Linked DNA regions of Homo sapiens. The protein of the gene in region 2 interacts with the protein of the main gene of each other region in a biochemical or structural test. Each region holds a gene or a part of one and is shown on either strand. Other genes may lie near its edges.

The links.
Region 1: the proteins of DLG4 (region 2) and ABCA2 interact in a test that uses a peptide from one of them, tested with the Homo sapiens proteins (one large-scale study listed by IntAct).
Region 3: the proteins of DLG4 (region 2) and GOT1L1 interact in a test that uses a peptide from one of them, tested with the Homo sapiens proteins (one large-scale study listed by IntAct).
Region 4: the proteins of DLG4 (region 2) and MYOZ1 interact in a test that uses a peptide from one of them, tested with the Homo sapiens proteins (one large-scale study listed by IntAct).
Region 5: the proteins of DLG4 (region 2) and JUP interact in a test that uses a peptide from one of them, tested with the Homo sapiens proteins (one large-scale study listed by IntAct).
Region 6: the proteins of DLG4 (region 2) and MYOT interact in a test that uses a peptide from one of them, tested with the Homo sapiens proteins (one large-scale study listed by IntAct).
Region 7: the proteins of DLG4 (region 2) and MAP7D2 interact in a test that uses a peptide from one of them, tested with the Homo sapiens proteins (one large-scale study listed by IntAct).

The regions. Positions count from the first base shown.
Region 1 is NC_000009.12:137,006,349-137,009,422, reverse strand, and holds the end of ABCA2 (ATP-binding cassette sub-family A member 2), read left to right. Parts: coding exon 1-53; intron 54-369; coding exon 370-472; intron 473-554; coding exon 555-692; intron 693-800; coding exon 801-1,007; intron 1,008-1,458; coding exon 1,459-1,494; 3' UTR 1,495-2,189; downstream 2,190-3,074. UniProt on the Homo sapiens protein: Probable lipid transporter that modulates cholesterol sequestration in the late endosome/lysosome by regulating the intracellular sphingolipid metabolism, in turn participates in cholesterol homeostasis.
Region 2 is NC_000017.11:7,193,628-7,197,424, reverse strand, and holds part of DLG4 (disks large homolog 4), read left to right. Parts: intron 1-372; coding exon 373-668; intron 669-849; coding exon 850-952; intron 953-1,090; coding exon 1,091-1,205; intron 1,206-2,929; coding exon 2,930-3,106; intron 3,107-3,424; coding exon 3,425-3,461; intron 3,462-3,553; coding exon 3,554-3,581; intron 3,582-3,710; coding exon 3,711-3,758; intron 3,759-3,797. UniProt on the Homo sapiens protein: Postsynaptic scaffolding protein that plays a critical role in synaptogenesis and synaptic plasticity by providing a platform for the postsynaptic clustering of crucial synaptic proteins.
Region 3 is NC_000008.11:37,937,083-37,942,137, forward strand, and holds the start of GOT1L1 (putative aspartate aminotransferase, cytoplasmic 2), read right to left. Parts: upstream 3,043-5,055; 5' UTR 2,948-3,042; coding exon 2,833-2,947; intron 1,800-2,832; coding exon 1,618-1,799; intron 668-1,617; coding exon 556-667; intron 305-555; coding exon 195-304; intron 1-194.
Region 4 is NC_000010.11:73,634,946-73,639,267, reverse strand, and holds part of MYOZ1 (myozenin-1), read left to right. Parts: intron 1-1,345; coding exon 1,346-1,524; intron 1,525-4,322. UniProt on the Homo sapiens protein: Myozenins may serve as intracellular binding proteins involved in linking Z-disk proteins such as alpha-actinin, gamma-filamin, TCAP/telethonin, LDB3/ZASP and localizing calcineurin signaling to the sarcomere.
Region 5 is NC_000017.11:41,776,263-41,780,584, reverse strand, and holds part of JUP (junction plakoglobin), read left to right. Parts: intron 1-4,322. UniProt on the Homo sapiens protein: Common junctional plaque protein. The membrane-associated plaques are architectural elements in an important strategic position to influence the arrangement and function of both the cytoskeleton and the cells within the tissue.
Region 6 is NC_000005.10:137,884,038-137,888,351, reverse strand, and holds the end of MYOT (myotilin), read right to left. Parts: intron 2,305-4,314; coding exon 2,139-2,304; intron 1,489-2,138; coding exon 1,355-1,488; intron 1,140-1,354; coding exon 967-1,139; 3' UTR 501-966; downstream 1-500. UniProt on the Homo sapiens protein: Component of a complex of multiple actin cross-linking proteins. Involved in the control of myofibril assembly and stability at the Z lines in muscle cells.
Region 7 is NC_000023.11:20,113,765-20,118,576, reverse strand, and holds the start of MAP7D2 (MAP7 domain-containing protein 2), read left to right. Parts: upstream 1-1,669; 5' UTR 1,670-1,697; coding exon 1,698-1,827; intron 1,828-1,936; exon of another isoform or gene 1,937-2,046; intron 2,047-4,812. UniProt on the Homo sapiens protein: Microtubule-stabilizing protein that plays a role in the control of cell motility and neurite outgrowth via direct binding to the microtubule. Acts as a critical cofactor for kinesin transport.

The DNA.
Region 1 (3,074 bases), on a different chromosome or scaffold from region 2:
ATGGTGAACGGTCGCCTGCGGTGCCTGGGCAGCATCCAGCACCTGAAGAACCGGTGAGCCGGGGCAGGGCCAGGGGTGGGCTGGGGCGGGCCCGGGGGGGGCGGCCAGGCAGCGGGGCCAGGAGTGGGGGTGGCTGCAGGGCTGTGAGGGCTGTGGGGCCAGGGGGGCTGGGGGCACTGGGGCTGGGGGGACTGGGGCAGTGGGGCCAGGGGAGGAGCCTGGAGGGCTGTGGGGGCTGTGGGGTTGGGGGGCTGTGGGAGGCTATGGGGCTTCCTGGGGTGCCTGTGGGGGCTGTAGGGCTGGGAGGCTGGGGGGCTGGGGCTCTGGCTGGGCGGCGCAGGGCTCCGGGCCACCGGCCTGTCCCACCAGGTTTGGAGATGGCTACATGATCACGGTGCGGACCAAGAGCAGCCAGAGTGTGAAGGACGTGGTGCGGTTCTTCAACCGCAACTTCCCGGAAGCCATGCTCAAGGTGCGCCGTCCCGGGCAGGGTTGTGGAGGGGGCGCTACGGGGTGGGGGGGCGCTGCCAGGCCTCTGACCTCCCCCCCTGCAGGAGCGGCACCACACAAAGGTGCAGTACCAGCTCAAGTCGGAGCACATCTCGCTGGCCCAGGTGTTCAGCAAGATGGAGCAGGTGTCTGGCGTGCTGGGCATCGAGGACTACTCGGTCAGCCAGACCACACTGGACAATGTGAGCGCCCCAAGGGCACTGCGCACCACACCTGCCCCTCCCCTCACCCGCCCTGCCCCTCCTCACCCCAGACCAGCCCCCTCCCCACACGCCTGCGCCACCCACCAGGTGTTCGTGAACTTTGCCAAGAAGCAGAGTGACAACCTGGAGCAGCAGGAGACGGAGCCGCCATCCGCACTGCAGTCCCCTCTCGGCTGCTTGCTCAGCCTGCTCCGGCCCCGGTCTGCCCCCACGGAGCTCCGGGCACTTGTGGCAGACGAGCCCGAGGACCTGGACACGGAGGACGAGGGCCTCATCAGCTTCGAGGAGGAGCGGGTGAGCAGGCTGCTCTCATGGCTGTCCAGGGCTCTGCCCACTGGACCCAGGCTGCCTGGTGGCTCCAGCCGCGGGTGGGGTCGGGGGAGAACTGGCCCCAGGATGCTTGCTGTCCAGAGGTCAAGGGGGCAGAGTGGGCGAGGGACACTTGCAGATAGGCCTGGAGAGACGTAACTGCATGGTCCAGACTTGCTAGAGTCTTTGAGGGGCACAGAGCAAGGGTGGGGCAGAGGGGACCAGAGCCGGGGAACAGGGGACCGATGTAGACTCAGTGGCCCCCAGACTCGGCAGACGGAGGCCCGGGAGAGCCCAGACACAGAGGGAGCTCGTGGGGAGACCCTGCGTCCAGGCCCAGCCTGCAGGAGGGCCGGGGCGGGCCAGCACAAGTGTCCTCAGCCCCAGCAGGGGGTGGCACAGGATGCCCCATAAGCCTGACCTCCCCTGTGCACAGGCCCAGCTGTCCTTCAACACGGACACGCTCTGCTGACCACCCAGAGCTGGGCCAGGGAGGACACGCTCCACTGACCACCCAGAGCTGGGCCAGGGACTCAACAATGGGGACAGAAGTCCCCCAGTGCCTGCCAGGGCCTGGAGTGGAGGTTCAGGACCAAGGGGCTTCTGGTCCTCCAGCCCCTGTACTCGGCCATGCCCTGTGGTCACTGCGGTTGCCGCCCCTAATTGTGCCAAAGGCTGACCCGGCCCGGGCTGCGTACACCCTTGCCCTGCTTTGCCTTAAAGCCTCGGGGTCTGCCCGGCCCCTCGCCCCTGCCTGGCACTGCTCACCGCCCAAGGCGACGCCGGCTGGACCAGGCACTGCTGGCCTTTCTCCTGCCCGGCCTCGGAACCAGCTTTTCTCTCTTACGATGAAGGCTGATGCCGAGAGCGGGCTGTGGGCGGAGCTGGGTCAGTCCCGTATTTATTTTGCTTTGAGAAGAGGCTCCTCTGGCCCTGCTCTCCTGCAGGGAGGTGGCTGTCCTGCGGGAAGCCATCAGCTTGGGCCAGCTGGCAGGTGGCAGGAATGGAGAAGCTGACCCTGCTGGCCAGGCAAGGGGCCAGACCCCCCCCAACCCCCAGCTGCCATCGCTCTCCCACCCAGCTTGGCCCCCTGCCCGCCCACCTCCCTGGGAGCCGGGCCTGTACATAGCGCACAGATGTTTGTTTTAAATAAATAAACAAAATGTCTGCGGGTCTGCGTGTGTGGGTTGGGAAGGGTGGGGAGGATGGGCGCATCAGGTGGGTTAGCGCTCCAGAAGGCCCTGCCCCTCAGGCACAGGTGCTGGCAGGGGGTGGCTGGGTCGGTCTGGAGGAGGGAAACTGAGGCAGGGTGGTTCACCATGGTTCACTGTCCCCCTCATCCCACCCTCAGGGGTTGCTCCCGGCCCCCTTCCCCTTAGCCTTCATCTTCCCGTCCACCTGCCCTCTCTAAGCCTCCTTCACCCCTTGCTGCCCACGTGGGGCCTGCAGCAGCCTGGGCTAGGCTGTCTCCGTGTCATGGAAGGGACAGCGAGGGCTTCCAGGAAGAGGCGACCTCCAGGAGGAGACCGAAGTCTGTGAAGATTCCTTAAGGGAAGGGCATCCCAGCCAGAGGGCAGGGCACAGGCCAAGGCCCCAGGGAGGCAGGACCTGGAAGCTTTGAGGCTCATCAGCGGTGGAGCCTGGCACACTGTGGGCAGGAGATGGGGGAGGGGCATGAATGGCCCCCAGAGCTCACGCCCCGTGATCTGGGCCAAGTTCAGACTCTTGCCTTAGGCCGTTTCAAGGCTCCTCAGGAGGGTAGAGGGTGGACTCACTGAGGGCTGGTGCCACATGGGGGACAACAGGGGAGGGGCCCATGGGCTTGAGGGCACTGGGTGGGCTGGGCCAACACATCCACTTGGGTTCCTATGAGGCACTCACTGTGACCACCTGAGAGGCAGTGGGATGACCATGCTGGAGTCCCTGAGAGGCTGGGTCACTGGGGTGAAGCTGTCCTGGGCCCTGGGGGCGGTTCACTCTGGAAGAACCGAGAGGAACAGTGGCTCACTGGAGGGGCTGGTGTGGGTTTGGTGGTCGGCCAAGGGAAATGCG
Region 2 (3,797 bases):
GCAGAGAGGTGGGGGGAAAAAAGAGGGAGAAGAATTTTATGGATTAAGAGATTCGAGTGACACAGGAACCCAGAGAAAACCCCCAAAGCGTAATATTAATGCTCCCTTTGACTTCCCCATCCCTGGCATACTGAGGACATATAACGTTCAAATCCTTTATCCCCTAGGACAACCAGCCTCTGATGTCACCTATAAATTCCTGACCCCTGATGTCACTGTGATCTGATATCCCCTTACCACCCCACCCTGGCATCTCTGGCAGAATATCTTCCCTTCCACCTAACTTTGGCTCTTCTGGCACCCTGGGGAGAAGGTTGGGTGGCGGGTGCTGTTTCCCTCCAGGCACTTTCATCTCTGCCCTGTCTTCCTCAGCTTATTCCCAGCACCTGGACAATGAGATCAGTCACAGCAGCTACCTGGGCACCGACTACCCCACAGCCATGACCCCCACTTCCCCTCGGCGCTACTCTCCAGTGGCCAAGGACCTGCTCGGGGAGGAAGACATTCCCCGAGAACCGAGGCGAATTGTGATCCACCGGGGCTCCACGGGCCTGGGCTTCAACATCGTGGGTGGCGAGGACGGTGAAGGCATCTTCATCTCCTTTATCCTGGCCGGGGGCCCTGCAGACCTCAGTGGGGAGCTGCGGAAGGGGGACCAGATCCTGTCGGTGAGGGAAGGCCTGCCCCTACCTGCACCACCCCCTCCCCACAGGGCAGAGCGCAGAGCTCTTGGGGAGGGGCCTGGATGGGCTGCAGCCGAGTCCTCTTGCGGGACCACTCCCTGCTCCACCTGGACCCAGAAGTGCTGCCTCCTGTCTCTGGTGACACAGCCTGTCGTCCTCTCTCTAGGTCAACGGTGTGGACCTCCGAAATGCCAGCCATGAGCAGGCTGCCATTGCCCTGAAGAATGCGGGTCAGACGGTCACGATCATCGCTCAGTATAAACCAGAAGGTACCAGGCCGGAAGTTCCTTGTCTTGTGAGCTGAAATGGCCCTTAGAACTCTTCCTCAGCTGATGGCTTCAGTAGGGGAGGACAGGGGTGACAGTAGGATGGGGACAGAGCTCAGAAACCTCCCTGTCCTTCCTCAGAGTACAGCCGATTCGAGGCCAAGATCCACGACCTTCGGGAACAGCTCATGAACAGCAGCCTGGGCTCAGGGACTGCGTCCCTGCGGAGCAACCCCAAAAGGGGTTTCTACATCAGGTCAGAGGCTTCCCGGGCTGGACTCCTCAGCCCCTCTGCGTTCCTGGGCACTCTGTGCCTGGCCCGGGCCTCAGCCGCTCCTCTTCTCCACCCTGCCTGCTCTAGCTCCCCACCCCAGGCCTGAGGCGCAGCCAGGGTTCATGGGCTTGGCTGCACAGGTTAACATTTGAAATACTCCCTGTCGATGGGAAAATAGCCTCTGCCCCAAGTATCCCAATTGCCTTCTAGCCCCTGGTCATCCCAGCACTTCCCCGGGACTCCCAGGCCACCCCACAATTTGGCGTCTCGAAGGTTAATGCTTGGTGAAGCAGGGTCCTCTAGGGTATTTGGAGTGTTGCCCCAGCCTTCACGTCCCTGTGGGCAGTCCCGGAGACGTGGGCCGCAGCTCTGTGGTGCCTGCCCCCGTCTCTCCAGCGGCATTTTGCTCCCCTCTTAGGGCTCGTCTCCATTGACTCTTTTTGTGGCTTAGGTTTCTGCCAAAACACACCTCTCTCCCGCCCCCGGGGGTCACCCCTCCACTTCTGTCCCTGTCTGGCCCTGTGGCTTGCATGGCCTCGTCTGCCGCTGCGCTCTGCAGATGTCTCTCGGAGGTGCTGGCCCTGGCTGACCTATTTCCAGAGGTCAAGACCTGCACTTCTGGCCATTGGCTTTCTGGCCATCTCCACTGGGATGTCCCACAGGCGTCCCACACTCAACATGTCCCACGCTGAGCTCATCATCCTGCTGTGGGCCTGGGTTCCATCTTGCTGTGCCAGCAGTTTCCCTCTTGTTGGATGGCATCACCAGCCACCCAGACACTGGCTCCCACCTGAGCCCTTGCTCTGCCCTTCCTCCCTGCTCGGGTCCGGTTGGTCCCCAAGGTTGTTCTGACTCCCAGTGACCACAGAGGTTGTGTAGTGGCTCCCAGGCGGAATGTCATCTGGTTGTCACACTTCCAGGGGGCCCGGGGTCTCCTCCCTCCTCTCCAGGCCCATTGCTTTCTTCTGTGTCTTCATTACTTCCCTGGTTCTGACCCCAGGGGTTGTGACTTACTGATAGAAATTTGATACTGGTAAGGGTAACCATTATTTGGAAACACGGGACATTTTCTTTTTCTTATGAATTTGGGCAGATTCAGGGTTACCCCTGTGACTTTATGATGTGCGTGTGTACTGCACACTGCTTTCTGTTTTTCTTTTTCTTTTTCTTTTTTTTTTTTTTTGAGACGGTGTCTCGCTCCGTTGCCCAGGCTGGAGTGCAGTGGCGTGATCTCTGCTCACTGCAAGCTCCGCCTCCTGGGTTCATGCCATTTTCCTGCCTCAGCCTCCCGAGAAGCTGGGAATACAGGCACCCGCCACCGTGCCCGGCTAATATTTTGTATTTTTAGTAGAGACGGGGTTTCACCATGGTCTCAATCTCCTGACCTTGTGATCCGCCCGCCTTGGCCTCCCAAAGTCAGCTGGGATTCCAGGTGGGAGCCACCACGCCTGGCCCAAACTGCTTTCTTGAGAGGGTCAAGTTCAAGCCCTGCCTCTGGAAACTGTGCTCAGTGTGGACTGAGTGATGGCTAATAGTTGTTATGAGTTATAGTCAGCGTTTGGTCCCCACACAGTTTTGGGTTCCTCGGCATCCATAGCTCCCATGGGAGTGCCATCTGCAGACCTCTGGGCCGGGTCTTTGGGTGACTGGGGCATCCTTCCTGGAGTCCTCAGCTGGGCTCTGACCGATAGCCACTTGCCCTCCAGGGCCCTGTTTGATTACGACAAGACCAAGGACTGCGGCTTCCTGAGCCAGGCCCTGAGCTTCCGCTTTGGGGATGTGCTGCATGTCATCGATGCTAGTGATGAGGAGTGGTGGCAGGCACGGCGGGTCCACTCTGACAGTGAGACCGACGACATTGGGTTCATCCCCAGCAAACGGCGGTGAGGCTCCTGGGCTCTGTAGCCTTCCTGCCACAGGCACTGAAGTTCCCAAGGTCCCCCGGGGTGGGCAGCCAACAGGGGATGGGTTTGCCCTCTGAACTCCTAGGGGTTTGTCTGTTGGGCCCTCCTGGGGTCCGTGGCTCCCATGAGCCTTTGGGAAGGACAACTCCTTATTGAGGAGCACAGTGTCCAGGGCTGCAGGAGAAGGGGTGTCAGCTGGCCCAGAGTATGGAGAAGGGGTTGTCAGCTGGCTCAGAGCATGGGGGTGGCAGGGGGTAGGCATTCCCCTACCCGCGTATCCCTCCATGTATCCCACAGGGTTGAGCGACGAGAGTGGTCAAGGTTAAAGGCCAAGGTAGGTGGAGGAGGGTGTGAGCCTGGGTGGAAGTGTGAGGGCTCATGGAGCTGAGCTCATAACTAACCCCGTGGCCTGCTTTTTCTTCTTAGGACTGGGGCTCCAGCTCTGGATCGCAGGGTAGGTAGGGTTAGTTCGGGAAGATGTGGGTGAGAGGAGCACTGAGTTGCTTTTGATATCCTCAAGGGGGAGACAGGGCTCCAGGTCCCCTGTTTCAGAGCCCCTTGCAGATGCCCCACCTCCCACCAGGTCGAGAAGACTCGGTTCTGAGCTACGAGACAGTGACGCAGATGGAAGGTGAGCCCTGGCCCCTGCCTTGGCCCCAGCACTTGCTGC
Region 3 (5,055 bases), on a different chromosome or scaffold from region 2:
GCTTCACCCCCACCCAGGAGTGGCGGCCCCAGGGCATTTGGGGGTGAAGTGCTCCTCCATGTTAGTTACCATTGAAGGGCCAGGCAAATTCAAACCTGGAAAAGGTCTTGGATGACTTAAGAGGTGTGGGGAGGAGAGGAACATTAGGCTGTAAGTCAGCTCTAGGGAGGAGTTTCTGAGCGGGGCCCCTCTACCTCCACCACATTGAGGAGTATGTCGGGGTCCATGCATAGCTTCTTGGGGTCCCAGACAGAGTATTCATAAACTGTAAAGCCCATGTCCTGGAAGACGAGTCCATGCAGTTCTGTGGGAACACAGCCCCCCACTAGCTGGTACATGGGAAACAGAGAGACGGAGACAGAGGTACTGGAGTGTGGGGCTGAGAGTCACTGGCTGAAGGTGGGACATTAACAGGAAAAGGACATAAATAGCTTGGCTTGTCTGCCATTTTGCTCATGACAGAGAATGAGGGATAACAGTGAAGATGGCAAATGGGGTGAGGATTAGGAACAAGGGACGGGGATTGCTGTTCCCCTCATCTTGGGTAAGACTAACCTTTTTGAGAAGAGATGATGTAAACTATACGAGCATCCTTATGCCAAGCTCTGAGAAACTGGACGCCAAGCTGGAAGGCACCACTGTCACCAACAGTGTGTACACCCCCTACCTGCCAGCAAGACATAGACACAAATAGGCCAGGTGTGGTGGCTCACACCTGTAATTCCAGCACTTTGGGAGGCTGGGGTGGGTGGATCACTCGAGGTCATGGCCAACATGTTGAAACCCCGTATCTACTAAAAATACAAAAATTAGCCGGATGTGGTGTTGGGCATGTGTAATCCCCGCTACTCAAGAGGCTGAGGCAGGAGAATCACTTGAACCCGGAAGGCGGAAGTTGCAGTGAGCGGAGATCAGGCCACTGCACTCCAGTCTGGGTGACAGAGTGAGACTCCGTCTCAAAAAAATAATAAGTAAATAAACATTAAAAAATAAAAAGAAATAGACAGAAATAACACTCTAAAACAGTAATGGAGGCGAGACGCAGTAGCTCATGCCTGTAATCCCAGCACTTTGGGAGGACGAGGCAGGGAATCCCCTGAGGCCAGGAGTTTGAGACCAGCCTGGCCAACATGGTGAAACCCTGTCTCTACAAAAAATACAAAAATTAGCTGGGCGTGATGGCACATGCCTGTGATTCCAGCTACTCAGGAGGATGCAGCACCAGAATTGCTTGAACCTGGGAGGTGGAGGTTGCAGTGAGCTGAGATGGCACCACTGCACTCTAGCCTGGGTGACAGAGTGAGACTCTGTCTCAAAAAATATATATAATAGGTTAAAAAATAAAACAGTAATGGGAATACTAACACCACCTCCAATTCAGATCATTCCTGTCTTGAAAGAGCTTTCAAATCAGCAGTGTGAGCAGGTGGGAATACCACTGGACTGAGATTCCGATCCTGACTCGATGGCTAAGGACTTGTGGACTCTCTGAGCCTCAGGTATCTCTTTTATCAATACCAGGGGGCCCTCCGAGGTCCCCTTCGGGTTTAAGGTTGTGCAGACCCAGATCGCCACTCTCTGTGTCTAAATGAGCCAGGGGAGGGCCCACCTTCTCACCCTGTTCTCCACAATGGCTTGGCTGTGCTTTCCAAAGAGGAGTGCTAGAGAGGCCTGGATGAATGATTTCAGGCCCATGGTGGGCAAGTACTCATAATTCAGGGAGGGATCCTGTGAAATCTGTAGTCGAGTCTTCTGCACCACGAGAGAAACCCAGGGATGGCCTTCATTTGTCATGCAGACTGTGAGGAAAACCACAGAGGGAGCTCCAGATGCCTGGTTTGGGCCCCCAGGGCTGAGCTCTGCAGACAGCCTGCAAACAAATCTCTCCTGGACTCCATGGGGCTGTGGGAAGGTGCCTGTGAAAATACAACTTTCCCTTTTCTTTTCTCCTTGATGAAAAGAATATGCTGTTAGTGAATGTGTATTATTTTTGTCTTTTTAAAAAAGACAACTGAAACCTATGCCATTTTAAAGGTTAAAAATTATACAAGCCCAGGATTGGTGGCTCAGGCCTGTAATCCCAGCACTTCGGGAGGCTAAGGTGGGTGGATCACTTGAGTTCAGGAGTTCAAGATCAGCCTGGGCAACATGATGAAACCCTGTCTCTACAAAAAAATACAAAACAGCCAGACATGGTGACCAGCGCCTGTAGTCCCAGCTACTCAGGAGGCTGAGGCAAGAGGATGGTTTGAGCCCAGGAGGCAAAGGTGGCAGTGAGCTGAGATCTTGCCACTGCACTTCAGCCTGGGCAACAGAGTGAGGCCCTGTCTCAAGAAAAAAAAAAAAAAAATATATATATATATATATATATATATATATATATATATATATGCAAAATGAGAGTTATAGGTAGATGAAGCTAAATAAAGGTAACCCTGACTTTCACAGTGGTGAGCCCCAGTTGCATAGCAGAAAGCTCAATCTGGAGAACCATTCTTGGTTCAAGAACAGGAAGAGAAAGAGAAAGAGAGAGAGAGGAGGTAAGAATCTGAAGAAGTGTGGGATGGCCATGCAGGCCCCCAAGCATAGAGTTGTGGAAGAGGACATAGCTCTCACCAAATCCCTAGAAGCCCCCAGAGAAGGGCAGAGAGCATGGAATGACCTGGGACCTTATCTGCACTTTTCCCCACTGGGTAATTCTGTTAACAAGAAAAGATCTCTCCACCCACAGAAGCTTGGGCTGCACCCCTCCCCCTGCAGCAGGGAACACTGTCCTCCTAGAGGCAGTTACCATCACTTAAGTCTTATACTTCAGAACTGCTAGGCATCTACCTCTATAGGCTAAGAATATCTTGTTCGGGTAATCATCTTGTTTGTAGGTCTTTAACAAGCTGCCCTCTAGCTTGTGGGCGAGGGGCACATCCATGAACACTGAAAGGGTGGGCATAACTGAAACGAAACTGGAGCCAAGACTATGTGTCTCTGCTCCTGTGTTCCGCTTCTGCCCAGAAGTCTTCCTCCAAGGCTGGGCCGGGCAGTCCTGCCTCTTCCTGGAACCTTGGCAGCCCCAGTGCAGAGGCGCTGGACAACGGGTTGCCAGGGCAACAGAACCTCATGATCTTTGTGGTGGCGATCCACAGGGGCCACAGGAACATTCCAGGGTACTTGAGGAGAATCCCCTCAGACAGCGGGCAGGGCAGGATAACAATCTCCGGAATTCCCAAGCCCGTTTCCCTCACTCAATGCCTTCTCTTCTCTAGCCCCAGGTGGCTCAGTCCAAAGTAACAAGCCCACTCCTTAGATGACAGGGCAAGGATAATGGGAGATTACTTAACAGATACAATGTACATTGTTGGGGTTATGGATACCCTAAAAGCCCTGACTTCACCACTATGCGATGTATGCATCTAACAAAATTACACTTGTACTTCACACATTTATACAAATTAAAAAAAAAAAAAAGAAAGAAAGACATAGGGCAAGGCAGGCAGCCAATAAGCCAGATAGGGCTTCTCCTGCAGAAGCAAAAACCCCAGATCACACACCAATGCAAGTCGAGGCATTGATTTCCATTTTGCAAAGTGCCCCAGATTTCAAAAGGAATAAAAAGCAAACACTGTTTTCTTCCACAGTTGTTTTAATAAAGAATCCTATTATTAGAATATAATTGGCAACTCACTAAGCCAGTCCTATTTCTCTCAGTTATCTAGAGCCAAGACTTCTACATATGTTTGTTAAGTTTCTTTTTCTTTCTTTTTTTGGTTTTTTTTTTTTTTGAGATGGAGTCTCACTTTGTCGATAGTCTCGAACTCCTTGCCTCAGGTGATCTGCCTGCCTTGGCCTCCCAAACTGCTGGGATTACAGGCATGAGCCACCACACCTGGCCATTTGTTAAGTTTCAATGACAGCCAACTAGTAAGTATAGACAGCAGAGGCCAAGGGGAGAAAAGAGCCAGCCTCTATAGAGTCAGTCTGCATATTGCTTGCTTTCTTTTCCTTTTGATGTTTAATGACTCTCTCTTTTTTTTTTTTTTTTTTTTTGAGACAGAGTCTCGCTCTTGCTGCCCACATTGGAGTGCAGTGGTGTGATCTCGGCTCACTGCAACCTCTGCTTCCCAGGTTCAAGAGATTCTCCTGCCTCAGCCTCCCGAGTAGCTGGGATTACAGGCATGCGCCACCACACCCAACTAATTTTGTATTTTTAGTAGAGAGGGGGATTTCTCCATGTTGATCAGGCTGGTCTCAAACTCCAGACCTCAGGTGATCTGCCCACCTGGGCCTCCCAAAGTGCTGGGATTACAGGCGTGAGTCACTGCGCCCGGCTTTTTTTTGTATTTTTAGTAGAGACAGGGTTTCACCACGTTGGCCAGACTGGTCTCAAACTCCTGACCTCAAGTGATCTGCCTACCTCAGCCTCCCAAAGTGTTAGGATTACAGGCATGAGCCACCACACCCAGCCTGATGTTAAATAACTCTTTAAATGATTGTTGCAAACACTGTTGATGTCTCACCCAGAAGGCCTTCACCACCAATGTGCCCGGCCCCAGCTGCTGCTTCGCTGGTGGACAAGGCTTATATGCCTGTGTTCTCTGGAGAATTGTGCTTGGCTGGCAGGAGTCAGCTAGCCTAGAAACCACCTGGAGGTTTCACCCCCACTGACAGGGGTAGCCAATGACTGCCTGATTTAGGCATACAAAGGGTCAGCCACAGCCAGGCATGGTGGCTCACACCTGCAATCCTAGTGCTTTGGGAGACTGAGGCGGGAGGATCACTTGAGCCCAGGAGCTCAAGACCAGCCTGAGCAACATAGGGAGACCCCCCCCACCCACTCCACAAAAAATTTTAAAATTAGCTGGGCGTGGTGGTATTGCAGTGAGCTATGATCATGGCACTGCACTCCAGCCTGGTTGACAGAGTGAGATCCTGTCTTTAAAAAAAAAAAAAGGTCGGGCACGGTGGCTCACACCTGTAATCCCAGCACTTTGGAAGGCCAAGACAGGCAGATCACAAGGACAGGAGATTGAGACCATACTGGCTAATGGGGTGAAACCCCGT
Region 4 (4,322 bases), on a different chromosome or scaffold from region 2:
GCCTAGAGTCCCAGCTACTCCAGAGGCTGAGGTGGGACGATCGCTTGAACCCGGGAGGTGGAGGCTGCCGTGAGCCATGATTGCGACGCTACCCTCCAGCCTGGGTGACAGAGTTCATCCTAAGATATATTTATTTTGTCTCAAAATAAATAATACAAATAGGGCTGGGGCTGTGTCTCATACCTGTAATCGCAGCACTTTGGGAGGCTGAGGTGAGAGGACCACTTGAGCCCAGGAGTTCAAGACCAGCCTGGACAACATAATGAGACCTCATTTCCATTAAAAAAAAAAAAAAAAAAAAAGTCCAGGCGTGGTGGCTCATGCCTGTAATCCCAGCACTTTGGGAGGCTGAGGTGGGCCAATCATCTGAGGTCAGAAGTTCAAGACCAGCCCGGCCAACATGGTGAAACCCTGTCTCTACAAAAATAGAAAAATTAACTGGGCATGGTGCCGGGTGCCTGTAATCCCGGCTACTTGGGAGACTGAGGGAGGAGAATCACTTGAACCCAGGAGATGGAGGTTGCAGTGAGCTGCAATCGCGCCATTGCACTTCAGCCTGGGAGACAGAGCAAGTCTCTGACTCAATAAATAAATAAATAAATAAATAAATAAATAAATAAATAAATAAAATGTAGGCTGGGCGCCACGGCTCACGCCTGTCATCCCAGCATTTTGGGAGGCCGTGGCTGGTAGGTCAGTTGAGCTCAGGAGTTTGCGACCAGCCTGGCCAACATGGTGAAACCCCATCCCTACCAAAAAATATAAAAATCAGCCAGGGATGGTGGTGCAGGCCTGCAATCCCAGCGACCTGGGAGGCTGAGGCAGGAGAATTGCTTGAACCTGGGAGGCGGAGGCTGCAGTGAGCTGAGATCGCGCCATTCCACTCCAGCCTGGATGATAGAGCAGGACTCTGTCTCAAAAAAATGAAAAAAAAGAATAAAAAATAAAAACAAATATATATATATATATATATATGGCATCTGTATTTGGACTCCACACAAGATTGGCCTCTGGGTTTTTCCTGATGCCATGGTTTCTCCAATGGCCTCCATCTATGATGTTCCTTTACTCCTTTTGCTCTGTACCCCATGCCCGTACCTCTTTTACCCCATTGGCCTCTCCACTCTAGTATTCCCATTATCTCCACAGTGCACCCCAGTTCCCATGCATTCTCTCCAAGTCCCAGGAAATCAAAATCCCTCACAAACTAGACAGCATTTGTTCCCCTAAATGACCTCTGCCAGGACACACATACACACTTAGTTGTGGATGAGGTCTGCATTCTGAGCCCAGAAAACCCTACTTTCCTCTTTCCCTTGATTCTTCTTCTTTGCCTCCCTGAAAGGTGGACAGGAGAGCTCAGGCTTGAACCTGGGCAAAAAGATCAGTGTCCCAAGGGATGTGATGTTGGAGGAACTGTCGCTGCTTACCAACCGGGGCTCCAAGATGTTCAAACTGCGGCAGATGAGGGTGGAGAAGTTTATTTATGAGAACCACCCTGATGTTTTCTCTGACAGCTCAATGGTGAGTCTGGAACTTTATCACTATCTCAAAGCCTGGTGCCTGTTCTGACAGCTTGTTAGTAGGCCCTGAACCTCCAAAATGCAGTCAACATCCCCTCCCTGAAAATTTATAAATTTGTTAAACCCCCAGATATATTGAGCCCGCAACAGCTCCAGGGTGAGTTACAGCCCACCTCTGAAACCCAGTTTTCATCATAGAGCCACTGAAGGGTTGGAGAATACCACACCCTTAGGGAGAAAATTCCTTCCCAGTAAAGGTAAGTGTTAAAGATAGATTGCCAGATAAAACACAGGATGCCCAGTGGGGCAGTCCAGTCTTGTATTTTGAAGTTGAGATACACAATGAATAATTTTTTAGTGAAGTATGCTCCATGCAATATTTGGGACATAAAGATAAAAATTTAAAAAAATTTTAGAAAGAAGATAAGGCAGCCAGGCATGGTGGCTCACACCTGTAATCCCAGCACTTTGGGAGGCCGAGGCAGGTGGGTCACCTGAGGTCAGGAGTTTGAGACCAGCCTGGCCAACATGGTGAAACCCCCATCTCTACTAAAAATACAAAAAATTAGCTGGGCGTGGTCGTGGGTTCCTGTGATCCCAGGTACTCAGGAGGCTGAGGCAGGAGAATCACTTGAACCCAGGAGGTGGAGTTGCAGTGAGCCCAGATTGTGCCACTGCACTCCAGCCTGGGCAACAAGAGTGAAACTCTGTCTCAAAAAAAAAAAAAAAAGAAAGAAAAAAGAAAAAAGGAAGAAGATAAGGCAAAGAATAAAATTGAAATTTTAAAATACAGAATATACAATTAAATTTGAGTTTCAGATGCACAATGAATTCTTTTTTAAATATGTCCCATGCAATATTTGGGACATTAAAATAAAAATACAGGATGTCCACTTAAATTTGAATTTCAGATGCAAATGAATAATTTTTTTAGTATAAGTAAGTCCCAAGCAATATTTGGAGGCATATCTATACTAAAAAAGTATTTGGGTCAAGTGTGGTAGCTCACACCTGTAATCCCAGCACTTTGGGATGCCAAGGCAAGAGGACTGCTTGAGTCCAGGAGTTGGAGACCAGCCTGGGCAACATGGCAAGACTCTGTTTCTACAAAAAATTAAAAAGTTAGCTGGGTCTGGTGGCGCACACCTGTAATCCCAGCTACTCTGGAGGGTGAGGTGGGAGGATGGCTTGAGCCTGGAAGGTAGAGGATGCATGAACATGAGCCATGTTCACACCACTGCACTCCAGCCTGGGTGACAGAGAACCCATCTAAAAAAAAAAAATAAAAATTTGTTGTGCATCTGAAATTCAAATTTAAGTGGTATCCTATATTTGATTTGCTAAATCTGGCAACCCTAGAAAGAGTTAATTGAGTTTTTACAGCCACCTCCCATTTGAGCCATTCTTCCATTTAAAGGGTCAGTCTATTCCCTAAGAAGCCCCAGGTGTGGAGACTGAAACGGTCCTTCAAGATATATTCTAGTCAGGCTCCTTCTCCAAAGAAAGAGGAGACTGGAGAGGGGCCAGGCACAGGATGGTATAGCTGAGGAAGAAGGGCCTTCTCCATTTCCTTTCTTCCTCCTCCACCCTCTCTGAGTGGCTGGGGGAGAGTGGAAATAGATGCCTGCATGGGGCCGGGGGCAGAAGTGTCTGTCATTGGTCCTCATATAGGAGCAGAGTAAAAGTGCTGAGCTGCTCATATCTAACTTTAGGAGGCCAAAAGCACTCTTCTCTGCCTGGGTCTGGTTACACTGGGTGGAGCATTGGGGTGTACATGGTGGGATGGCCAGGAGAGCCTCCTGAAGAAGTTGGTGGGGTTATTTTTAGGCTTTGGGTTTGCATCTAATGTTGCCCTTTTGGCCACACTTCCCCCCACCTGCTACAGTGTCACTGTCACCAGTGAGGTCCAACAGGCACCAAGAGGAGAGAGGAAGAGAAAGAAGGAGAGAGAAGAGAGTTCTGACTGTTGGACAAGCTGAGGAAGGGAGGGGGCAGAATTTCTCTAGTCCTTGTAATTAAGACTGGGTGCTCCATGGCAACCCCATCCTCCCAAATTTTAGTTGGGGCTGGACACAGCTCATGCCTGTTATCTCAGCACTTTGGGAGGCTGAGGCAGATGGATCACTTGAGCCCAGGAGTTTGAGACCAGCCTGGGCACATGGCAAACCCTGTCTCTAGGAAAAAAAAAAATACAAAATTTAGCTGGGTGTGGTAGCATGCCAGTAGTCCCAGCTACTTGAGAGGCTGAGGTGGGAGGATTGCCTGAGCCAGGGAGGTGGAGGTTGCAGTGAGCCGAGATTGTGTCACTGCACTCCAACCTGGGTGACAGAGCCAGATTCTGTCTCAAAAAGCAAAAGAATTTTTTTTCATTTTTTTTTTTTAAAGCTGGGCAGGCGTGTTGGTCTTTTTTGACTTGTTAAGGATGAGAAAGGGGAGTGTGGAGAACACGCTGCCCTTACCCTAGGTATAACTGGAGGAAACGAGCCAAGGGAGTCCTACCTCTTAAGAAGAGTTTAATTCGGGCTGGGTGCGGTGGCTAACGCCTGTAATCCCGGCACTTTGGGAGGCCGAGGTGGGTGGATCATCTGAGGTCGGAGTTTGAGACCAGCCGGACCAACGTGCAGAAACCCCACCTCTACTAAAAATATATCAAATTAGCCGGGTGTGATGGTGCATGCCTGTAATCCCAGCTACTCGGGAGGCTGAGGCTGGGAATTGCTTGAACCTGGAAGGCTGAGGTTGCGGTGAGCCGAGATCGTGCCATCACACTCCAGCCTGGGCAACAAGGGCGAAACTCTG
Region 5 (4,322 bases), about 35 Mb from region 2:
TAGCTGGGACTACAGGCATGCGCCACCATGCCCAGCTAATTTTTGTATTTTTAGTAGAGATGGGGGTGTCACTATGTTGGCCAGGCTGGTCTTGAATTCCTGACCTCAAGTGATCCACCCACCTCAGCCTCCCAAAGTGCTGGGATTACAGGCGTGAGCCACTGCGCCCGGCCTTCTTTCCTTTTTTTGAGGTAGGGACTCGCTCTGTCCCTTAGGCTAGAGTGCAGTGGCGTGATCACAGCTCACTGCATCCTTGAATTCCTGGGTTCAAGCAATCCTCCCGCCCAGCCTCCCAAGTAGCTGGGTCCACAGGTGTGCACCACCATGCCCAGCTAATTTTTAAAGTTTTGTGTAGAGACAGGGTCTTGCTATGTTGCCCAGGCTGGTCTTGGACTCCTGAGCTCAAGCATTTGTCCCATCTCAGCCTCCCAAAGTGCTGGGATTATGGGCATGAGCCACCATGCCCAGCTGAAGCTCAGCTTTCTGTGTCTTTCCCTACCATGGAGACAGTAGCAGGGACCAGAGCAGAGTTGGGACAGGGGCTTGGCAATCAATAAGCTGCTTATTTAGGGGAGACTCCTCCTCTTCCTTGATTGAGAAGGTAATATCTGGCTGGGGCAGTGGCTTACACCTGTAATCCCAACCGCTCTGAAGGTTGAGGCAGGAGGATTGCTTGAGGCCGGGACTTTGAGACCAGCCTGCCAGCCTGTGCAACATAGCAAGACCCCATCTCTTAAAAAAAAAAAAAAAAATTAGCCAAGCATGGTGGCATGTGCACGTGGTCCTAGCTACTCGGGAGGCTGAGGCGGAAGGATTGCTTGAGCCCAGGAGTTCAAGGCTGCAGTGAGCCATGATTGTGCCACTATACTCCAGCTTGGGCAACAGAGCGAGACCTTGTCTCAAAAAAGAGAAAGAAAATAAAAAAAGTAATATCTGATCATTGTAAAAAAAACTGGGGGCCAGCCGCGGTGGCTCACGCCTGTAATCCCAGCACTTTGGGAGGCCGAGGCGGGCGCATCACGAGGTCAGGAGATCGAGACCATCCTGGCTAACATGGTGAAACCCCGTCTCTACTAAAAAATACAAAGAATTAGCTGGGCGTTGTGGCAGGCACCTGTAGTTCCAGCTACTGTGGAGGCTGAGGCAGGAGAATGGCGTGAACCCGGGAGGCGGAGCTTGCAGTGAGCCAAGATTGTGCCACTGCACTCCAGCCTGGGTGACATCTGTCTCAAAAAAAAAAAAAAAAAAAAATTGGGAAGTTTAGAAAAGTTTAAGAGAAAAGAAAAAAAATCGCCCATAATCCTAAAAAGCAACTTTCATTAAGGTCTCTTCCTCTTTTTTTTTTTTTGAGACGGAGTTTTGCTCTTGTTGCCCAGGCTGGAGTACAGTGGCACAATCTCAGCTCACTGCAACCTCTGCCTTCTGGTTTCAAGCGATTCTCCTGCCTCAGCCTCCTGAGTAGCTGGGATTACAGGCACCTGCCACCATGCCTGGCTAGTTTTTTGTATTTTTAGTAGAGACGGGGTTTCACCATGTTGGCCAGGCTGGTTTCAAACTCCAGACCTTGTGATCCACCCGCCTTGGCCTCCCAAAGTCCTGGGATTACAGGCATGAGCCACCACGCCCAGCCAAGTCTCTTCCTCTTTTCTTAGCATCCTTTTTTTCTTTTTTTTTGAGACGGAGTCTCGCTCTGTCACCCAGGCTGGAGTGCAGTGGCAGGATCTCGGCTCACTGCAAGCTCCGCCTCCTGGGTTCATGCCATTCTCCTGCCTCAGCCTCCCGAGTAGCTGGGACTACAGGCACCCGCTAACACGCCCGGCTAATTTTTTATATTTTTAGTAGAGATGAGGTTTCACCGTATTAGCCAGTATGGTCTCGATCTCCTGACCTCGTGATCCGCCCGCCTCGGCCTCCCAAAGTGCTGGGATTACAGGCATGAGCCACCGTGCTCGGCAACATCCTTTTGTTCTTTAGCCTTGATCTTGATGAGCTCATCCCCTGTATATAGTAACATTTTTTTTTTTTGAGATGGGGTCTCACTGTGTTGCCCAGGCTGGAGTGCAGATCTCAGCTCACTGCAACCTCCTCTTCCTGGGCTCAAGCGATCCTCCTACCTCAGCCTCCCAAGTAGCTGGGACTACAGGCACATGCCACCACGCCCGGCTAATTTTTGCATTTTTTTGTAGAGACAGGGTTTCGCCATGTTGCCCAGACTGGTCTGGAGCTCCTGAGCTCAAGGGGATTCACCTGCCTTGGCCTCCTAAAGTGCTGGGATTACAGGGGTGAGCCACTGCACCCTGCCTACAGTAACAGATTTTAGCCAAAACTTTATTCCAATCCTGGTTTTCCAGCATGTGTTGTACAATAAACAGATGGATCTTCCCAGGAGAGGGTTATATGTAGGGATCCTTGCAGAATCACACCCCAGGGAGTGGGCCTCAGTCAGCTGGGATCGGAGCTGCTGTTATTGAGAAGTGGGCCGCCCCTGGACCCCAGGCTGCCCAAGCCCCACTGGTGGTGGTTGGAGGCAGTGGAATGAGAGTACTTGTGTATTTTGCGTCACCAACACACGTCAACCTTTTGTTGTTGTTTCCTGGTGTGGGGTGAAGTGTTTTTCCATTCCCAGGAGTCCCGGTTTGGGGTCATCTGCCAGTTTGGGAATCTGCCCACGGGGGTCACCAGCAGGGAACGGAGCTCCAGCTGGAGCCCTCTCCAGGGGAGCATAGAGGTCCCTGGGTCGAGCCACTTGGCCGTGGCAAATTCCCTCTCCTACAAATCCCCTTCATTTTCCTACCCGGGTTTGTTTGCTTTGGGAAGGAGCCCAGAAGGAGGAAAATAAACAGCAGCTGGGTCGGCAGGCCTGAGCCTCCCCCAGGCCCCAGCTCATCCTCAGGCCACAGCCTGGGCTGCTCTCCAGACTGGAAGTGAGGGTTTTCCTCCGGAAGCCTAAGACCAGCTTGTCTGACAGCTCCTGCTTCAGTTCTGCCCTCTTGGAATGGACCAGCTTGCTGATGGAGACCACAGTGTCTGCCAGAGAACCTGTAGTCTGCAGGAGGTTCCGTCCTGGAGCTGCCAGCCAGAGGGGAGAGGCCTCCTTGGGCAGCCCCAGCCTGAGAGGGAAACAGGCCCTCAAGGGAAGCCATCATGTCCATCTCTCTGGACTTTCTAGAGTCTGTGTCTGTGCTTGGAACTGCTGGCCAGACCTCAGCAGGAGCCAGGGACAGAGTGGGGAAGGTGGGGGCTGGAGATCCTGCTGAGCCCAGCTTCCCCCTGGGACTGCTATGTGGGGAATGTTCACGCCTGGCTGTGCAGCTGCCCCTGGCTGCAGGAAGCAGCATGGACTGGGCATAGGGCAGCCAGTGTCTCCACCTGGCGTGAGCGAAGTTCCACTCCCCTTCTCCTCAGCCATGTTCCCTTGACCTCCCCAGGGCCTGGGAGGCAGCTCCCTACCTAGTCCCCATCTCAGGGGTCAGAGAAAGCAGCCAGGGCTCCCCCAGACAGACTGCCATCCACCTTGCCCGACAGGTCTCTGTGCCAGCCCTCGCCTTTTTAAATTTTTATTATTTTTCTTTTTTTTTGAGACAGAGTCTCGCACTGTATCCCTGGCTGGAATGCAATTGGTGCGATCTCGGCTCACTGCAACCTCCGCCTCCCAGGTTCAAGTGATTCGCCTGCCTCAGCCTCCCGAGTAGCTGGGATTACAGGTGCCCACCACCACGCCTGGCTAATTTTTTGTATTTTTAGTAGAGATGGGGTTTCACTATGTTGGCCAGGCTGGTCTCAAACTCCTGACCTTGTGATCCACCCACCTTGGCCTCCCAATATGCTGGGATTACAGGCGTGAGCCACCGCGCCTGGCCCCCTCACCTTTTTGTTTTGAGACACGGTCTCGCTCTGTTGCCTAGGCTGGAGTGGCATGATCCTGGCTCACTGCAGCCTCAATCACCTGGGCTCAAGTGATGCTTCAGCTTCCAGAGTAGCTGGGACTGCAGGTGCATGCCACCATGCCCGGCTAATTTCTTTTTATTTTTTGTAGAGACAGGGTCTTACTATGTTGCCCAGGCTGGTTTCGAACTCCTGGGCTCAAACGACCCTCCCACCTCCGCCTTCCAAAATGCTGGGATTATAGGCACGAGCCACTGCGCCAGCTGGCTTCCGCCTCCTCTGCCATCTCTTTGTTCTTCTAGCATGAGAATGCATGCCTTTCCTGTGGACAGAGGGCTTCCAGAGTCACAGTGACAAAAGAAGTCACTTGATCATCTCCATTTTACAGATGAGAAAATGAGGCTTAAGGAAATTGAGCCCCTCTCCTCACTCAGAAT
Region 6 (4,314 bases), on a different chromosome or scaffold from region 2:
AATTATTAGAGGAAAAACACCCATATATAGGTAATCAAATTTACATAATTTTTTTTTTTTTAGAGATGGAGTCTCGCTATATTTCCCAGTCTGGCCTCAAACTCCTGATCTTAAGGGATCCCCAGCTCAACCTCTCCCAGCAGCTGGGACTACCGGGCTGTCAAATTTACATTAACTATGAGAATTAAGCAGGTAATCTCTAGAGACTATTCTTATTCCTTTGAGCATAACAGACTGAAAAATCCTGAAGAATTAGAAACCTGTTTGGTTAAAACAAAATCACAAATTCAGTAGATTCAGTCATGATTTAAGTTCTTGTGATTGCCTTTGAAGTGCAAACCATGGCAAGTCTAGCTTAGTTTCTAGAGGAATTGGCTGAGCTGTAAGTGAGCTTCACACTGTTCTAGAATATAACATTGCTCTTTTGGAACTTGTTATTCATAGGTTTTGCTGAGTGGAGTTTTATTTTACAGATCTAGACTTTTGTGAAGAGGAGACAGTCCGTTTTAAATATTTGAATTTTATTTTCTTTTGACATACAACTGTGGAACACTCAGATAATCTATACCATGTTAGTATTCCTACAAGAGAAAACGGGTAAAACAGTATTTAGAAAGCAGTACCAGTAAACGTTATTACAAGCATTAGATGTGTTTAAAAAGTTGATACTAATTTATAACCTGTAATTGTTAAATGTGCATGACTTAAATGTTAAAATCCTGTATTTTAAGATAGTCTTCTGCAGTTACAAATCCATATACCCAGATTTCCTGTAGGCTTCACAAATCGGAGGGGTACATAGAATGTGCAAGAGTCAAAGGATAAATAATATTATAAATATATATTAACTATATTACCTAATTAAAACCATAATCTGTTAATACAGCTATGGATTAATTTCAAAAAAATGTAATCAAATATATTACTAATGGTGTAGTTGGCTGTTTTCCAATGTTGGTAAAGTTATTAAAGTTCTTCACTTTCATAGAGTCCAGATTGAGCTGCCAAACGCTGAAATTCTCCTTCTGGGTTAAAAGCTTGTTTTACATTCAAACCTTTCCCATTAAGTGCTAAATATTTGCTGAATGTTGGTCGAACCCGTAACTGCTTAGGAGCTGGAAGAGTTTGGTTTGGACGTGCTGAAATAGATCACATAAAAGTTGATTCAGAAAACCTGTTCTAACCAAATTGGTCACACTAGGTATTTATTATCAGACAGGAAAAGAAAAAAGAACCAAAACTGATTATATATGGGGAAAATATCTCAAATTTTATACTCTGCTGGGATTTTCATTTCTTATTAAATCTTCCTAGTTAAATCCCTTATAATACTTTGGTTAATAGTATGACATACCCGTAACGTCTAATCTTGTGTTACATGTAGTCACTCCAGCTTCATTAACTGCTGACACAGTATACCACCCAGCATCTTTCTTGTTTACATCTTTTATCAGTAAAGTAACTCTTCCAGTGTTATCTTGATATAAGCTGAAATAAAAATTTTTAAGAAATGAAAGTACAGGAATTATTTCTGTGAAGTGGATGTCTCTGACCAACAGTCAGACTAGGAAGAAAAAAACATTTGAAAATTCCAAAGCTGTATCTATTTATTGCCAAATAGCTATTGGTTTTCTTGAATTAAACATCCCCCCTTGGGTGCTGTCTCCCTCTGCTCTTCAATCTGTCCCCTGATGGTCCCTGTCATTCACTCGGGTGTGTCTGTGTTTGTATTTATGCGTATGTATAGGGGAATGGAGGGGTCCTGACCTGTTCCGTTATCTGTCTCCTACCTCCTCCTTTGTTTAATAAAGGCTGAAGCTTTTTGTAAAGAAAGAAAAGAAAAGAAAACATCCCCCTTTAATCTTGTTTATGTCATTTATTTCCTTGGGCCATCTTTCATCATCGTTGATAAAAAGATAAATCCTAGTCTACTTTATGCCTTACATTTCTGATTAGTGGAATCTGGCTTACTGAAGTTTTCTTACATTTTTATCTAATATATATTTTATTATATTATTCTTTAGTGTTTTAAAAACTAGACAAATTGAGATAAATGCATGCCATTTATAATGCATGTTAAAAAGTATAACTGGATTCACCCAAATAAACTATAGTAAGTCTAGAAATACATATCCTACCTTATTCGGTCAGTGTTGAATTGTACCATTTCATTATTTCTTTTCCAGAAAAGCTTTGGTGGAGGTATAGCCGAGATCTGGCATTCTAGTTTCACTGAATCTCCCTCTAAAACTTTTTTGCTCTGTGGTTTGTAGATAAACATTGGTGCTCTTTTATGTTCTTTTGCTATATATTAATACAAAAATTCAAGTATTTGAAATATTATAAAAAAGGTATTAAATCAAACCAAGGTATTATGAAATTTGTATGTTGATATTAAAATGTTAAAAAGCAACAGCAACAGAAAGAAACTCAGTAAAAAAGACATGCAGTACTATTTTGTTATACCATTCAGAATTCTAAACTCTAATGTAATGATGCATTGAATTGATAATCAGATAATTATATTTCATTCAAACTAAAGTCATATTCTTTTTTTTTTTTTTTTTTTTTTTTTTTTTTGAGACAGAGTCTCGCTCTTTTGCCCAGGCTGGAGCGCAGTGGCGTGATCTTGGTTCACTGCAACCTCCGCCTCCCAGGTTCAAGGAAGTCTCCTGCCACAGCCTCCTGAGTAGCTGGGATTACAGGTGTGCACCACACCCAACTAATTTTTGTATTTTTTTTAGTGGACACAGAGTTTTGCCATGTTAGCCAGGCTGATCTCTAACTCCTGGCCTCAAGTGATCTGCCCACCTCAGCCTCCTAAAGTGTTGGGATTACAGTCATGAGCCACCGTGCCTGGCCCAAATTTAAGTTATATTCTTTATCATCTCATCTACAGGGAGGCAGCATGAGTGATGGAAAGAGTATCAGACAGCTTGGGTTCAAATTACCTATTGGCTCCATGAGCCATGCCAAATTGGTAAAATTTTGTTTAGTTTCTCTGAGTCTCAGTTTTATCTATTGTTATAAAAAAAAAATCCCGGTAGTAGTGACTGTTGTGTCTACCACACAAAATAATTGTAAGGAACAAATGAGATAATAAACAAAGAGATACTTTGTAAACTCTGAAGGAATGTGGGAATATCAGTAATTATTATGACCTTATTTTCAGCTACCTGAGGGGAGACAGGAAACGATAGTTCAGTACCATAACCCTGGTTTTTCTGAAGGAGAAATGAGATTAAACGGATGGCAGCCAAGATCTCTTTCAGCTCTACTATTGTAGTATTTCTGAAGCCATTGGTACAAATAGGATTTGTCTAAACTTTAATCACTTAAATTGTATGTGTTTTTGAAAATTTCCAGCCCACTAGTTTTTCCCCTGAGATTGAGGCCCTTTGGTATATTATTGAATAATCTTAAAGATTTTGTATTGATCTGGGTAGAATATAAACTCAAGAAAATAGTTTATCCTTTAACCTGATCAAACTTCTGTATAATAAATAGTGAATTATAGCAAAATATCTCTTATGCAATATACAATGGCTTAAAGTATTAAAAATATGGTATGGGTTGAGTATCCATTATCTGAAATGCTTGGGACCAGAAGTGTTTTGGATTTCTGATTTTTTTTTTATTTTAGAATATTAGCGTTATACTTGTTGAGCATTCTTAACCTGAAAATCCAGAATGCTCTAATGAACACTTCCTTTGTGTGTCATGTCGATTTTGGAGCATCTTAAAGATTTCAGATTTTTGGATTAGGGATACTCAACTTGTATATTTAAAGCACTTAAAGTGTAAAATTTAAAAACCAGACACCAGTTTTATAAGAACTGCTCTACTTAAGACAGATTTGAGACATAAATGTAGCCATACCTGTTTTCTAAAGCAAGTAGGCCTGTTTTGGTTATAATTAGACATTAGTTTCCTAGTAAAAAGGACATAGTCTAAGGCTAAAAGTTGATATTTACTCTTGATTTTTTAAGAAATTTTTTTAAACAAGGTCTGACTGTGTCACCCAGGCCGGAGTACAGTGGTGCAATCATAGCTCACTGAAACCTCAAACTCCAGGCTCAAGTTATCCTCCTGCCTTAGCCTCTCTAGTAGCTGGGACTATAGGTGTGCACCACTATGCCCAGCTAATTTTTTTATTTTTTGTAGAGACAAAGAAGATCTTGCTATTTGTTACCCTGGCTGGTCTCAAACTCCTTGGCTCAAGTGATCCTTCCACCTTGGCGCCTCTTAAAGTGTTGGGATTACAGGCCTGAGTCACTATACCCAGCCTACTCTTCACTTTTAAACTATGTATTT
Region 7 (4,812 bases), on a different chromosome or scaffold from region 2:
GGGACTTTCCCAGCTTTGGCCAAGAGTACAGGTGCCCATTCCTGAGAGTTTCAGCTTCACATTAAAAAAAAAAAAATGAGACATAATTAAGGGACCATAAAATTCACCCGCTTAAAATGTACAATTCAATAGTTTTTAGTATACTTAGTTGTGCACTCATCATAATCCTAGAATATTTTCATCCAAAAAAGAAAACCTGTACCCATTATTCAGCTTCATTTTTAATCGTGTATATCTCCCCCCAGGAGTGGTAATAAAACTTTCAGGCTGGTCACCTTCCAACGAGAAAAAACATGCAGCCTGGGGCTCCATGGGAACGGGTTATCACTTGGCAGGCCTGGGTAAACAAAAGGCTTGAGCCGGCCCTGCCAAGATGTCTTTTTCAATGTTTTTGAAAAGATAATAAATGTGCATGGCAGTGGTAAAAGTGCCTACTTAGGAGGCAACCCGTTTAGCAGTTTCTTGTGTGTCTTCTCGGAGAGATCCTCCTCAGAGGTTTTTTGTTTTATTTTGCTTTTGAGACAAGGTCTCTGTCGCCCAGGCTGGAGTGCAGTGGCGTGATCACTGCAGTCTCGACCTCCCGGGCTCAAGCGATCTTCCCGCCTCAGCCTCCCAAGTAGCTGGGACCACAGATGAGTCGCCATGCCCAGCTAATTTTTAAAATTTTTTTGTAGAGACGGGGGTCTCGAACTCCTTAGCTCAATCAATCCGCCCGCGTCAGCCTCCCGAAGTGTTGGGATTACAGGCGGGAGCCACCACACCCGGCATCGCGGAGGTTTCAGTCAGCATTATTTACGCCTCAGGAGAAGAGGAACCAAATTGGCTGCGGAGTAGGGTGTCGTTGAAAGGCCTAGGTCGGCCTACGGCGCGTGCCGCTGCCTCTTAGTTGAAGATCGACCCCAATAGCTTGCTGCTGTCCCTCTCTGGGTGACCGCACGCTGAGGGTGGGGCGTCACTAAACACTGATTACCCGTGCGCCTCGAAAACTGGAACCTAACTATGCATGGAGGGCGGGTCCTCTGGCGTCTGCACAGATGTCACTGGCCCAACTGGCACCCACCTGGGGGCCTAGCCAGAAATTGTTCCCAAGGCTGCATTGCTGAGTTTGCATGCAGACACCCAGTGAGTGTAAGCGTGTGCGTGCTGAGTGAGCACGTGTGTGCGCGTTATGTGCTCTGTGTTCACACATTGAGTGAGGATGTGTGTGCACGGTGTCTGAGAAACTGCACCCTACATCTACACACGCTTTGAGTGTGTATCTGCTACTGTGAGAAGATGCATTTACGCTGGGTGTGCACGTTGTGTGTGCATGTTGCATGTAAGCATCGTATGAAGAACTGTGTGCGTACGCACGCCTTCTGTGTGTGCACTGTGTACAGCAGCGTGTAAGGACGCGTGCACGCCCGTACGCGCTGTGTGAGGACTGTTGTGCACATTGCATGCACACGCTACAAGCGCGCGCCGCGTGAGAACCGGTGCGCCTATCGCACGTGCACGCCCTGCGTGCGCTGTGCGTGGAAGCGGTGCGCCTATCGCACGTGCACGCCTTGCGTGCGCTGTGCGTGGTAACCGGTGCGCTTATCGCACGTGCACGCCCTGCGCGCGTGCTGCGTGAGGACGCGTGCGCATGCGGACGCGCGCGGGTTCGGTGCGGCGCGGCGGGCTTGGCAGTGCGCCTGTGCGGCCGGCGCATCCCGATGGAGCGCGGCGGCGGCGGCTCCGGGACGGGATCCCGGCCTGAGGGGACTGCGCGGGGAACCTCTCTCCCAGGGAAGATCGCAGAACCGGGCGCGGTGCGGACCTCTCAGCCCAACTACCGGCCTCAAGGTATTATCCCCAGAGTGTGGCGGGCGCCCGAGGGCTTCGGGTTCCTGTGGGGGGGCGGGCCCGGCGGCCCAGGGCAAAGGTCCTCGAGCGTGGGGGGAAGGGGCACGGCGCAGAGCTGAGATAAACGCCCTTTCCCTGGCCCAGGATCGTCCGGACGTGCATCCAAGGGCCGCACCCCTCTCTGTGCGAGTGGCGGGGTTCTTTCTTGGGGCGACCTGGGTGAGTGGGTACACATGGGGGGTGGCTTAGGGTGGGCGGCAGGTGTGTTTGGGATGGAGGTGCCTGAGGGGGTGCTGCGGGTCCAGTCCCCGTCCTCGAGGAGCAGCCGGCATGGGGGTCGTTAGGATAAACCGAGCGGGGTTCTGGGGTTGCCCCGGCCTCCGCGCGCGCTCTCTCTGCGTTCTGGGAAACGCGCGCGAGCGCCGCTGCAGCCCGCGGCGAAGGTGGCCCAGCTTCGCGCCTCTTGGCGTTTCCAGGGGGCAAAATCGGCGTGTCACCCATTGGCAGAGGCAGATTCGCCCGGGCGGCCAGGCGTCTGCCCCGGACCGGGTGCTCCTCCCGCCCGGATGCGCTCCCTGTCTTGGGAACGCTGCTCAGGTGGCCGGGCCGCGGCCCTCAATCGAGGCAGCGGGGCAAACAAGGCTCTCAGCCCTCGAGGCTGCCGATGCTGGGAGCCATGGAGGGCTGGTCCCTGGCTGCCCAGAAGCCAGCGAGGCAGCGGAGGAGACTGTGAGGACATTTGGCAGGATTTTAGATAAGCAGGTCTGATGCTAACGTTCTGTAAAGTGGTTGCAGGTAGTGCGGGGGTGTAAGCAGCATGGAAACCGATTTCATGCTGTTTTTCCTGACAACAACTTTTTTATTTTTAGTTAATAAGGCAGGCTATTTTTAAAACATTTTTTATTGCAGTCTAATATGCATTTAAAAAACCACACAAAACTATAATTCGATGAATTATCACATAGTGAAGATGGGAGTATTTTATATACGATGGGCCAAGAAAAGGAAAGAAATCAAGAGAAATCTTCTTAAAACACGCTTTTTCACTGGGGTTGAGGGGGCGAGGTAGTATTTTCTGACTGGGCCTTCAGTTGCATCATTCTTAGGAGGAGGAGATAGCTTAAATCATTTCCAGTTTGTATTTTTCATTATGCTATTTTAAAGGCAGAATTCATTAACTGTCACAGGATAACGTTATAACTACCTTTGAAATGTGTGCTTTTGTTTTTATCCTTTTTGCTTGAAACACTCAAGCTGCATCTGCTAGGGAAGAACCTGGAAACTACCCACCAGAACGACCCTCCGTGGCAGAGGCGACCTTGTATAATAAAACACTGAAAAGGAGAGGTTGTTTCAGTTTGCATTTTTATTTGGTTGAGAGCTTAAATAATAGTTTGTTTCGATGTTCTGTTGTACTCATGAGAGGTGGGGAGGGGCGGTATGATTGGGTTTTCAGTGTATCTTGGATTTTATTTGAAGGAACTTAAGGGGTTTTTTTTTTTTTTTTTTTAATGGAAACAAAATTGGGGAAGGGGAGGAGGTACTTTTGCGGGGGAGATTCTTAATAAGTTCTGTTTGGAAACTATTGTAGAATCATTTAATGCACTCTTCTGATATTAAGATTAGCTTAAGGATATCTTCCTTCATTTGAAATTGGAAATATAGAAAAATATGTGTGAAGGTTTAAAATGTGAAATAAGCACCTATGTGCATTAAGGTTGGTATGGTAAAATTGGAATGTTTAATTTAGGTGCCAGGTGATACCACCATTTGTTGTTTGGGGGAGTTAGCAAGGCCAGGTACTTAAGTAAAGTCTCCTTAGAAAAATTATGATTTTGAGGTTTTATAATTATCTGTCCTGGATACTGATCATTCTTGGTTACCCAGGCCCTTAGCATTTGGGACCCATTCCTAATGAGACTTAACCTGCTTTTCTAGAGAGTCAACCATTGTTCCTAAGCTTGGGCTGGGTGCTGTCAAGGCTGCAAAATACAGAAAGACCTGAGATGTTTAGGCTGTCCAACAATTTTGTGTTGCACACTTAGGGGATATGAGTTGGCAAGTGGTTTTCCTGGGAGCTGTGTAAAAGACGGAAAGGAAATACCGCTGGTGGTTTCCTCTAGCAACAGGTTCTTCCGATATTGAAATCCTGTGCATGTTCCCATTACCCCCTAGTGATGCCTTCTTTCTTTCCTTTTAATTACCTCTGAATAGAAATTACCAGATCTACTGTCCATTTTAGTGCTTGTCTGATACACATAGTATAACAAATGAGCAAGTGCTTGTTTCAATCTGCTTAACAACCTTTAACCAGCAGATAGAATCACCAGATCTCAACCATATTTCCTTTCTTTCTTTTTAGATGAAGTCTCACTCTGTTGTCCATGCTGGAGTGCAGTGGCACAATCTTAGCTCACTGCAACTTCTGCGCCACCATGCCCAGGATCCCAGCACTTTGGGAGGCCGAGGCAGGTGGATCACTTGAGGTCAGGAGTTTGAGACCAGTCTGGCTAACATGGTGAAACCCTATCTCTACTAAAAATACGAACATTAGCCGGGCCTGGTGGCGCATGCTTGTAATCGTAGCTACTTGGGAGGCTGAGGCATAGGATCGCTTGAACCCAGGAAGCGGAGGTTGCAGTGAGCTGACCTCGCGCCACTGTACTCCAGCCTGGGTGACAGAGCGAGACTCCGTCTCGAAAGAAAAACAAAATAGGGTGGGGCCTGGAGATAGAGAGTAGGTGGTTATTGGAGACTGCGAAGGGTACTGGGGGGTGGGAAGGAGGTAGGAATGGTTAATGGGTATAAAAAAATAGAATGAATTAATAAGGCCTGGTATTTGATAGCACAACAGGGTAATTATAGTCAATAATAATTTAATTGTTCATTTAAAAATAACTACTAGTATGACTGGATTGTTTGTAACACAAAGGATAAATGCTTGAGGGGGATGGCTAACCTGTTTTGCATGATATGATTATTTCA